2 separate regions of the Homo sapiens genome follow, and region 1 is linked to region 2. Evidence: fine-mapped expression QTL. A gene starts in region 2. The other region holds a variant in brackets. All regions are shown on one strand. Distances are from middle to middle.

Region 1 (5,381 bases), 29 kb after region 2:
AATTAGTTTTATTTATTTTTTATTTTACTCTCATTCAACACCTTTGGTAAGGGTGAGAGTTCTACGTTGTTCTATCCATGTACCTGTTCAACCATCTGCCTACCCTCCTGTTTATCTATTTATCCATCTATCCACCCATTCATCTATCCATCCATCTATCCACCCATTCATCTATCCATCCATCCATCTGTCCATCCATCCATCCATCCAGCAACCTTGTATTGAGTACCAGCCTGGACCTGGAAAGGAAGATACAGAGTTAAAAAAAGACAGAGTCCTTGCCCTCAGGTTGCTTACAAGCTAGAGGGATAGACAAACAAATAGACGGGGAAGGGCATCCCCAGCTGGTAAGTGCACATTGTGAAGTATAGGTGTTATGGGAACATGCAGAATGAGTACCTTGCCCAGATTTGAAGGATCAGAGGAGGCTTCTAGAAATGACAAATAGATGTTAGGTAAAGAATCAGGTGAAAGATGTGCTGGGCAGAGGGAATAGCATGAACAAAAGCATGGGGGCCTTTTATTTGTTCGTTTATTTATCACTCACTCTTACGTCCTGAGCACCTATGTGCTATCTTTGGACTTCTATTTGCCACTGCTCTGACAGCTTCCCTTCTGTCTCTGCCACATGCTGTCCTCTTGGCACCTTTAGCCATACCTAGAGGCCATGGGCTCCTCCATGAAAACGTCTCCAAAGTTGCCATCTCTGGCCCACTCATCTCTGAATTCCTGGGGGCAGAGACCCTGTTTCATTCAACTTTATATCCTCAGCCCCTGACCTGATATATTGTGAGCTTGTTAAACATTTGCTGGGCCAATGAATGACTTGCTTGAGCCTGTCTCATTAACATCCCGCTAGATATCCTACCTCTGTTTAGCCCTTGGACCTCACATTCAGCATGCATGTTTCTGAGCTCATCTTCCCAGCTCTCTCCAGGAGCTCCTACTCCTGAATTTCCATTTGAAGGAATGGCCATAGTGCTCTTCTGGGAATTCAGGATTGGAACCTTGAGTCAACTTTGCTTTTCTCTCTTCTTTACCAGCCCCTCCATTCTCATCACAGACATCAGAGGCTAATGTCTATGGCTTCAGGAACAAGGCAATATTTATTGAGAGCGTACTATGTGCTTACTGTACTGGGTACCGAACTGGGGACAGGGGGTGCAACTGTGTACAAGAGAGACAAAATCTGCTCTCCAGGGAGCTAAAAGTCCAGTGAAGGAAGGACAGATAATAAAAATATAAGTGAATATTTAAATTATTATTATTTTAAAAATTCAACAATATTAAAAGGAGACAGTATACATGCATGATTAAGCAATGTGTGGTTTTTTTTGGTACTCCAGAAATTTCTGTTATTTTTAATTGATACTTCATAACTACATATTTCAGGGTTATAATTTGATGTTTCAATACATATATGTGTTGTATAATGATCAAATCAGGGTAGTTAGTGTATCCATCACCTCATGCATTTATCATTTCTTTGTGGTGAGAACCTCTAAAAGCCTCTCTTGTAGCTATTTTGTAATATACAACACCTTACTGATTGATCGATTGATTTAAATATGGGATCTCACCATGTTGCCGAGGCTGGCCTTGAACTCCTAGGCTCAAGCAATCTTCCTGCCTTAGCCTTGTAAGTAGCTAGGATTATATGCTCAAACCACAGTGCCCAGCTCAGAATGCCTTACTGTTAACCATAGTCACCCCACTGTGCAGCAGAACACCAGAGGTTATTTCTCCTATCTAATTGTAACTTTGTACCCATTGACTAACCTCTCATCTTCCCTTCCCTCCTTCTCTCTCTCATCTTTGTAATTGCTGTTCTAATCACTGCTTCTATGACATCAACTTTTTAAACAAAGATTCCACATGAGTGAGAACAAGCAGATTTTTTCTGTGTCTTGCTTATTTCACTCTGGGCTCATTCATGTTGTCAGACATGTCAGGATTTTCTTTTTTTATGGCTGAATGGTATTCTGTCACGTATAAATATCACATTTTCTTTATCCATATATCCATTTTTGGACCCTTAGGTTGATTCCATATCTTGGCTATTGTAAATAATGCTGCAGTAAACTGGGAGTGCAGATATCTCTCTGACATATTGATTGCATTTTCTTTGTTTATATACTTAGTATGGGGATTGCTGGATCATATAGTATTTTTATTTTTCATTTTATGAGGAACTGGCATACTATTTTCCATAATGGCTGTACTAATTTTCAATACCACCAACAGTGTGTAAGTGTTCCCTTTTCTCCAGATCTTTGCCAATATGTGTTTTCTTTTGTTTCCTCGATAATAGCCATTCTAACTTGAGTGAAGTAGCATCTCACTGTGGGTTTTTTATTTTTATTTTTATTTTTTTTTAGACAACATCTTGCTCTGTCAGGCTGGAGTGCAGTGGCGCAATCTCAGCTCACTGCAGCCTCTGCCTCCTAGGTTCAAGCAATTCTTCTGCCTCAGTCTCCCGAGTAGCTGGGATCACAGGCATGTGCCACCACGCCTGGCTAATTTTTGTATTTTTAGTAGAGACAGGGTTTTACCACGTTGGCCAGGCTGGTCTGGAACTCCTGATCTCAAGTGATCCACCCACCTCAGCCTCCCAAAGTGCTGGTATTACAGGCGTGAGCCACGGCGCCCAGCTGTCACTGTGGTTTTGATTTGCATTTCCGTGATGATTAGTGATGTTGAGGG[G/A]TGGAAGCGGGTAAGTAGGAAAACTCCCACCACAACTATAGTGCTAGAGTGAAGTAGGGCTGAGACTGGGGTTGGGCCTTCCAAGGCGGAAGGAAGTCAGGGGTGGAGGCCAAGTTGGGCTGATTTTCCTGCTGCTGCTAAGAGAAAACCAATTAATGGAAGAAGGTTGGGGGTAGGGTTAAGGATAAGTATTTGTTGAGGCTCTCATGTATTGGATGATGAGAGGAATCATGCTATAGCTAAAATAAAGCCAATGTCACCAATGCGATTGTATAGAATTGCTTGGAGGGCTGCTGTGTTAGCATCTGCTTGGCCATGTCATCAGCCAATTAGTAGAAAAGATATAATTCCTACACCCTCTCATCTGATAAAGAGTTGGAAAATGTTGTTGGCAGTAACTAGAATTAATATTGTGGTGAGGAAAATAAGTAGGTATTTGAAAAACTGATTAATGTTCAGATCTGCCTTCATATATCATATTGAGAATTCTATAATAGATCAAGTGATAAATAGTGCTACTAGAATAAACATTATGGAGAATTAGTCTAGTTTGAAGCTTAATGAGAGTTTTAGGGTTTGGATTGTTATTCAATATCAGTTTGAGATGATGGTTTCTTGGTCTGTACACATAAATGTTGTGGGAATGAGGCTAATGGTGAAAGTGCATGCGACAGCTATTTTTACATAGTATGGATATGAGTTCTTTTTGTGAGGGTTGATAAAGGTAATAATAATTGGTAAGGTTAAGGAGATTAAGGTTATTATAGTAATGGAAAAATACATGATTATTACTTTTATTTGGAGTTGCACCAATATTTTTGGTTCCTAAGACCAATGGATAACTCTCATCCTCTAAAAGTTGAGAAAACTATGTTGTTAGGCATGGAGGCATGAGTTAGCAGTTCTTGCAAACTTTATCGGTAAATAAGAAGTTGCGGACTTCTATTATTAGACCACAATCTAACATTTTGATTAAACTATATTTACAAGGTATAAGTCCTATAATAATTTTAGGATTTAGAGATAGTAAGAGAATTGGTGAAAGGTGTATGAGTATTAGTATGTTTTCTCGTGTAAAGGAAGGTTTAATGCTGTTAATATAGTATGTTAGTGTTCCTTGTTGTGTTGTGACAAGTATATAGAGGGAATAAAGGGCTGTGATTAATATATTAAGTCCTATAAGCATGATGGTAGTGTTTGATCAGGAGAATGAAGCCGTTGTTACAAGGAGTTCTCCTACTAGATTAATAGTGGGGGGTAGGGCAAGGTTGGTGAGATTTGCTGTAAGTCATCAAAAGGTTACTAGTGGAAGTAATGTTTGACGTCCTCGAGAGAGTAATATGATTCAGCTGTGGATTCACTTGTAGTTTGAATTTGCTAGGCAGAATAGTAGGGACGAAGTAAGTCCATGGGGAATTATGAGGATAATTGCACTGGTAAAACTTCAGGGGGTTTGAATGAGGATAGCCACAGTAACAAGTACCATGTGGCTTACGGAGGAATGTGCAATAAGTGACTTTAGATCAGTTTGTCGTAGACAGATGGAGCTTGTCATAATATGCCTCATAAGGATAATATCAGGAAAGGATAGGCTATATGTTCTGTCAGAGGGCTGAGGATGAGGGTAAGTCGCATTTTGTGTAGCCGCCCAATTTTAGGAGCACTGCTGCAAGTACTATTGAGCCAGCCTTAGGTGCTTATACATGGGCTTTGGGAAGTCATAGGTGAAGTCAGTATAGGGGTATTTTTACTATGAAGGCCATTATACATGCCAATCACATGAGATTGTTGGATCAGGAGATTGGTAGTTCTTGATATTAAATGTTATTATTATCATGCTCAGTGAGCCTAGGATATTTTGGGCATAAATAAGTGTAATAAGTAGGGGGAGGGATCCCACTAGTGTGTAAAATAAGAGATATGTACCTGCATTGAGGCGTTCTGGTTGGTTACCCCATCGGGTGATAATAATTAAGATAGGGATAAGTGTAGCTTCAAAGAGAATATAAAATATAATTAGTTCTGTGGCTGTAAATGCTATGATTAGAAAAATTTGTAGGGAAATTAATATGGAAATACAGGGTTTTTTCCATAGGGGTGATTCACTGGAGAGGTGGTACTGGCTTGCTATAGTTATAAGAGGTAGTAGTCAGGCTGTTAAGATTAGAAGGGGTGATGTTAGCGGATCAGAGGAGAAAGTTAATGAGAAGTTGAATAGATTGTCGTTGAATTAGTTAAAGAATAATAGGGCAATGAAGCTGGTGATTAGGCTGTGGGTAGCCATATTGATTCAAATTGTATAATTTTTAGAGAGTCATGTTATTGGTAGTAGTATAATTGTAGGAATAGTTATTTTTAGCATTGAAGTAAATTTAGGTTATGTATGTAGTCTAAGCCATATATGTTGGAAATTGAAAGTAGCAAAGCAAGGCCTACCCTGGCTTTGCAGGCAGCAAATACTGGTAGAGTAATGGGTATTACATTTGCTAGGGTGAAGTGTATATTTAAAGCTATAAGGGTATTTACTATGAATAATGATAATATTATTCCTTCTAGGCATAGGAGGGATGATATTAGGTGGGACTGATAGACTAATACCCCCAGAAGTGATATGATAAATGCTAATATGATACTTATGTAAATAGAGGGCATTTGGTAAGTATGTTCTATCATAATCT
Region 2 (5,381 bases):
AAGCAGGTCACTTTGCTTTCCAATTGTGCCCAATTCAGGGCTTTGAATTGCCTGCTAAATATTTAATATTATTGAATCAAAGTTGAAAGAGTTAATATACTTTATGAACAGAGTGAGAGAAAGTGATAGTTTCAATAAGTTGCCTCCCTAAATGGCCCAATAAATTTAATATTTATAATAAAACAACTAAATAGAAGACCAAGACTTACGGCTTGTCTTTCTTCCTTTTTAAGTTATTTTCCAGAAAATAATATTTATATTTTAAGTTAAAGTAACTGCAAATTGGAAACCACAGGGGGAGCCCCAGGCTGGGACAAATAATGACTAGCCTGGTCCCAACAGAACAGGCAAAGAAGGTGGTCCCTACACTCTTTATGGTCAGTTGGGGCCCCCTCCTCACTCTGCTGCAGCATTCTAGGGTCAGGGCCCCACCTTCCCTGGAACTGGGGTAGTGAGTAACCCAGCCTGCTGTGCTCCGGCCCCCCTTTCCCAAGAAGGTTTTTTTTTTTTTTTTTTTTGAGAGAGTCTTTCTCTGTCGCCCAGGCTGGAGTGCAATGGCACGATTTTGGCTCACTGCAACCTCTGCCTCCCGGGTTCAAGCGATTCTCCAGCCTCAGCCTCCTAGTAGCTGGGATTACAGGCATGTGCCACCAAGCCTGGCGAATTTTATGTTTTTAGTTGAGATGTGGTTTCACCATGATGGCCAGGCTGGTCTTGAACTCCTGACCTCAAGCAATCTGCCCACCTCAGCCTCCCAAAGTGCTGGGATTACAGGTGTGAGCCACTGTGCCTGGCCAGGACTTGTCTTTTTCTTTTCTTTTTTTTTTTGAGAAGGAGTCTTGCTCTGTAGCCCAGGCTGGAGTGTGATGGCGTGATATCCGCTCACCGCAACCTCCACCTCCTGCCTTCAAGCGATTATCCTGCCTCAACCTCCCGAGCAGCTAGGATTACAGGTGTGTGCCACCACGCCCAGCTAATTTTTTGTATTTGTAGTAGAGACAGCGTTTCACCATCTTGGCCAAGCTGGTCTCGTGATCCGCCTGCCTCAGCCTCCCAAAGTGCTGGGATTACAGGCGGGAGCCACTGCACCTGGCCCCAGGACTTGTCTTTCTTAAGCACAGAAGTTCTCTGAATGATGCCTAGGACATGGAAAGGACATTTTAATACATTTGCTAATCAAAGCATCATAAATCTTGCTTTTTTTCCCCATAGATAAAACATCTTTCTAAGACTCTGTACCTCTTTCCAGAGTGCTGCACATTTGAGTTAGCTTAATTATAGTGTAGTGACTTTGATCCAAACTTGCTGGTTTAAATCTTGGCTCTTCCAGCCGCTCACTGTGTGACCTTGGGCAAATTAATTAACCTTTCTGTGCCTTAGTTTTCACATGTTAAAGCAGCAGTCATAGTAATAGTATTTATCTTACAGTGTTGTTGGGATGGTGAAATGAGTAAATATTTGTAAATGCCCTGGCACATGGTAGTTGCAATATTAGTGTGCAGTATTGTTTTTATGATTAGAAATAATGTCTTCAAAGTCTCACTTTCCTGCTGGTTTGAATGTGCTGTGAGAACACATACTGTCAGTTTTGCCTACCACAAATTTGTTGAGTCTCTTGCAGGTACCTCCAAATGGGCTTGTAATTCACCATCCCCACTTTTCTTTTTTTTTTCCTTTCTTTTTCTTTTTATTTCTTAATTTCTCCCACAAAGACTGAAAGTGAATCCCCACTTTTCTTTTATCTTTTAAAAATTTTATTTGTGGGCCGGGCACGGTGGCTCCATGCCTGTAATCCCAGCACTTTGGGAGGCCAAGGAGGGTGGATCACAAGCTCAGGAGTTCGAGACCAGCCTGGCCAACATGGTGAAACCTCGTCTCTACTAAAAATACAAAAAATTAGCCGGGCGTGGTGGCGCATGCTTGTAATCCCAGCTACTCGGGAGGTTGAGGCAGGAGAATCACTTGAACACAGGAGGCAGAGGTTGCGGTAAGTGGAGATCGCTCCATTGTTTATTTGCATGTGGACATAAGAAAGGGTTAACATGGCCGACAACTATTTCATGAGCTTTTTGGCTTTATTTGAAAAGTGAAGTGTGTTTGGGGAAGGAGTTGGTTAGGAAAACAGATGCTTCCCTTTTTGACTTACCAAGGAAATGGAGATCCAAAGGAAAGCCTGAAGCACTTTGTGGCTTCCACGGGTTCGTTTCTAGGAAGCTTTTGCTTTACCTGGGGAAACCCCAAGCTCTACAGTGAGAAAGTTGTAAATTAGCCTTTAGGAGACGCTGTTTGTCAAAGTTATCTTAACCCTGGAAAAGGGGAGGGAAAAAGGCAGATAAGCAGTGATGACATCAGCAGGAAACTAGTATCAGGCTACCCAGTCCTGAAGATTCAGTTTTCACTTAAACAACCAGCAAGTCTTGAAGTCTCTTCCCAAGCAAATGGGAGCTTCTTTGGACCTTGGAGCACACAGAGGATTCTACTTTCTTTAAAACTTTGTTTTCAGGCAATTTCCCTGAGAACCGTTTACTTCCAGAAGATTGGTGGAGCTTGATCTGAAGGTATGTAATTAACAACCCTTCTTACTCCAGAGTCTCATGCTTGAATCTTTTCCTTTGCTTCATGGCTTCGTGTTGTAGAAACTTGCAAAAACTTGTCAGCAATGGCACTATTTTTTCTTAGATTTCTTTGTCATGCCTGGGAAAACAAAAGTTAAAAAATCCGGAAGCCTCCAACATAGCCTTTTACCGGGGCAGAAATATGTTAGCTCACAGAGACAAAGTTTGGTAGACTCACTAAAACTAGAGATCAGAATTGTCAAGAAACCACAAGGCAAATGCTAGATGCGGTAGAATAGAAAGGTGTCTCCAATAAACCACTCATTTGACCTCAGGGCTAGTAGCAGGGAAGATCCCCTGGATTATCACATTAAAAATGACATTTTTTTGTTTCTTTTAACACCAAAAGTAATGTGTATGCTCACATATGCATAAAATTTGAGAAATTCAATTGGAAGCCCAGAAGGAAATTTGTATTATCTATAGTTATGTCACCTCGATATAACCACTGTTTGTTATGGAGGTTTTGATTTTTGCTGTGTCTTCCTTCCTTTATTTATTTATTTATTTATTTATTTATTTATCTATTTATTTATTTGAGACGGAGTCTCCCTCTTTCACCCTCCAGCACTCAAGCTGGAGTGCAGTGGCACAATCTTGGCTTACTGCAACTTCCGCCTCCCAGGTTCAAGCAATCCTCCCATCTCAGCTTCCTATGAAGCTGGGACCACAGGCATACACCACCAAGCCCAGCTAATTTTTGTATTTTTTGTAGAGACGGGGTTTCACCGTGTTGCCCAGGCTTGTCCCGAATTCCTGGCCTCACAGTGATCCACCTGCCTCAGTCTCCTGAAGTGCTTCTCTGATTATAATGAAATTTAGTATGTAGAATACCATAGTTTATAGACTAGTCAGATGGAAACATTGACTCATGTAATTTTTATCTTCCTTCGCTGATTTGAGCAACTCTTGTCTAAAATCACCCTTTCCTTCTGAGGTCTAGGAGGTTTTTTTGTTGTTGTTTTGTTTTGTTTTTGAGGCAGGGTCTTGCTCTGTCACCCAGGGTGGAGTGCAGTGGCACAATCATGGCTCACTGGAACCTCCATCCCCGGGGCTCAAATGATCCTTCTGCTTCAGCCCTCTGAGTAGTTGGGACCACAGGCGTGCACCACCATGCCTGGCTAATTTTTGTATTTTTTGTAGAGATGGGGTTTTACCACGTTGCCCAGTCTGGTCTTGAACTCCTGGCCTCAAGTGATCCACCCGCCTTGGCCTCCCAAAGTGCTGGGATTATAGGCGTAAGCCATGACACCCCACCTGTTCCTTCCTTTATAAAGTATTTTCTTGTTTCTAAAAATAGCCAAGTTCTGCATATTGACTACATACCTCAAGTGCTTATAGAATAAATAGTATTACAATGAAAATTTTATCACTGCATTGCTCCTCTGATTATGATGAAATTTAGTATAGAGAATAGCATAGTTTATAAACTGATCAGATGGAAACATTGACTCATGTAATTTGTTTTTTTTTAGTGAAAACAAGTTTATTAGAGAAGTAAAGAAACAAAAGAATGGCTACTCCATAGACAGAGCAGCCGACTCATGTAATTTTTAACTTCCTACACTGATTTGAGCAACTCTTGTCTAAAACCACCCTTTCCTCCTGAGGTCTAGGATATTTTATTTATTTATTTTTCTTTTTGAAACAGGGTCTCACTCTGTCACCCAGGGTGAAGTGCAGTGGCATGATCATGGCTCACTGCAACCTGTGCTCCCCAGGCTCAAATGATCCTTCCATCCTCGGCCTCCTGAGTAGTTGGGACCACAGGCATGTGCCACCATGCCCTGATAATTTTTTGTATTTTTAGTAGAGACCAGGTCTCGCCATGTTGCTCAGGCTTGAGGTCTAGGATTATGCCTTCCCTTTCTGTAAGATAAAGGCCTGCCCTCTTACAGGTAGCAGTCTGAAGTTAAGATGTAACACACATACCTCACGGTACCTTGCTGTCTTTGGGTTGATAGATCATAAGGATAACCCTGCCTCCCCCAGATTGCTTTGTGTCTAAAACTTAAAGCATAGAGCCAAGTGCTATTTCTGCCACGTGCTGGAAATGAATGTAAGGGCTCCAATCAGGCTACCAGGCTTGAGAAAAATTGTGCTGTGTCCCTCCATCTTAACTTTCTCTCTCTGGGAACATTTTGATTTGGGAGAAATCAAGGTGAATTGAATTCCAATATAAGCACCCTCCAAGTTTCCTAAAAAGTAACTTGCAAGTGTTGGGGAAAAGTTTTCTGGGCTGTTGCTTTTTGAAGTAGCCTCGCCGTAATTTTTATTTTTCAGCACTTCTAGGAAAGTCTAATGCCCAGAACGGAGAAGGTTGTGGTGAGGGGAGGGCCTGGGAAGTCAGGGGGCCATATGTCCTCACTCTCTAACTCCCTGCCCCACCTCTCTGTCCCTTTCAGGCTGGCCATGAAATCTCAAGGTCAACATTGGTATTCCAGTTCAGATAAAAACTGTAAAGTGAGCTTTCGTGAGAAGCTTCTGATTATTGATTCAAACCTGGGGGTCCAAGATGTGGAGAACCTCAAGTTTCTCTGCATAGGATTGGTCCCCAACAAGAAGCTGGAGAAGTCCAGCTCAGCCTCAGATGTTTTTGAACATCTCTTGGCAGAGGATCTGCTGAGTGAGGAAGACCCTTTCTTCCTGGCAGAACTCCTCTATATCATACGGCAGAAGAAGCTGCTGCAGCACCTCAACTGTACCAAAGAGGAAGTGGAGCGACTGCTGCCCACCCGACAAAGGGTTTCTCTGTTTAGGTGAGGA

Evidence for each region. PIP is the estimated chance that this variant, and not a neighbour inherited with it, causes the effect. A credible set is the group of variants that fine-mapping cannot tell apart.
Region 1: its variant is the best candidate, but not a certain one, in a credible set for the expression of CASP10 in whole blood (TOPMed, PIP 0.69).

Annotation. Positions count from the first base shown.
Region 1 is chr2:201,209,596-201,214,976 of GRCh38, forward strand. The region is part of intron 9 of CASP10 (caspase 10); the gene reads left to right. It also overlaps the pseudogene MTND5P25, the pseudogene MTND4P23 and the pseudogene MTND4LP13. Among named protein-coding and RNA genes, the nearest start is that of CASP10, 29 kb to the left of the region's middle. The variant G/A (reference allele first, on the strand shown) is at 2,704.
Region 2 is chr2:201,180,751-201,186,131 of GRCh38, forward strand. It overlaps CASP10 (caspase 10), which reads left to right and starts at 2,391. Exons shown (of 10, transcript NM_032977.4): 1 at 2,391-2,558; 2 at 5,021-5,374. The coding sequence starts at 5,028.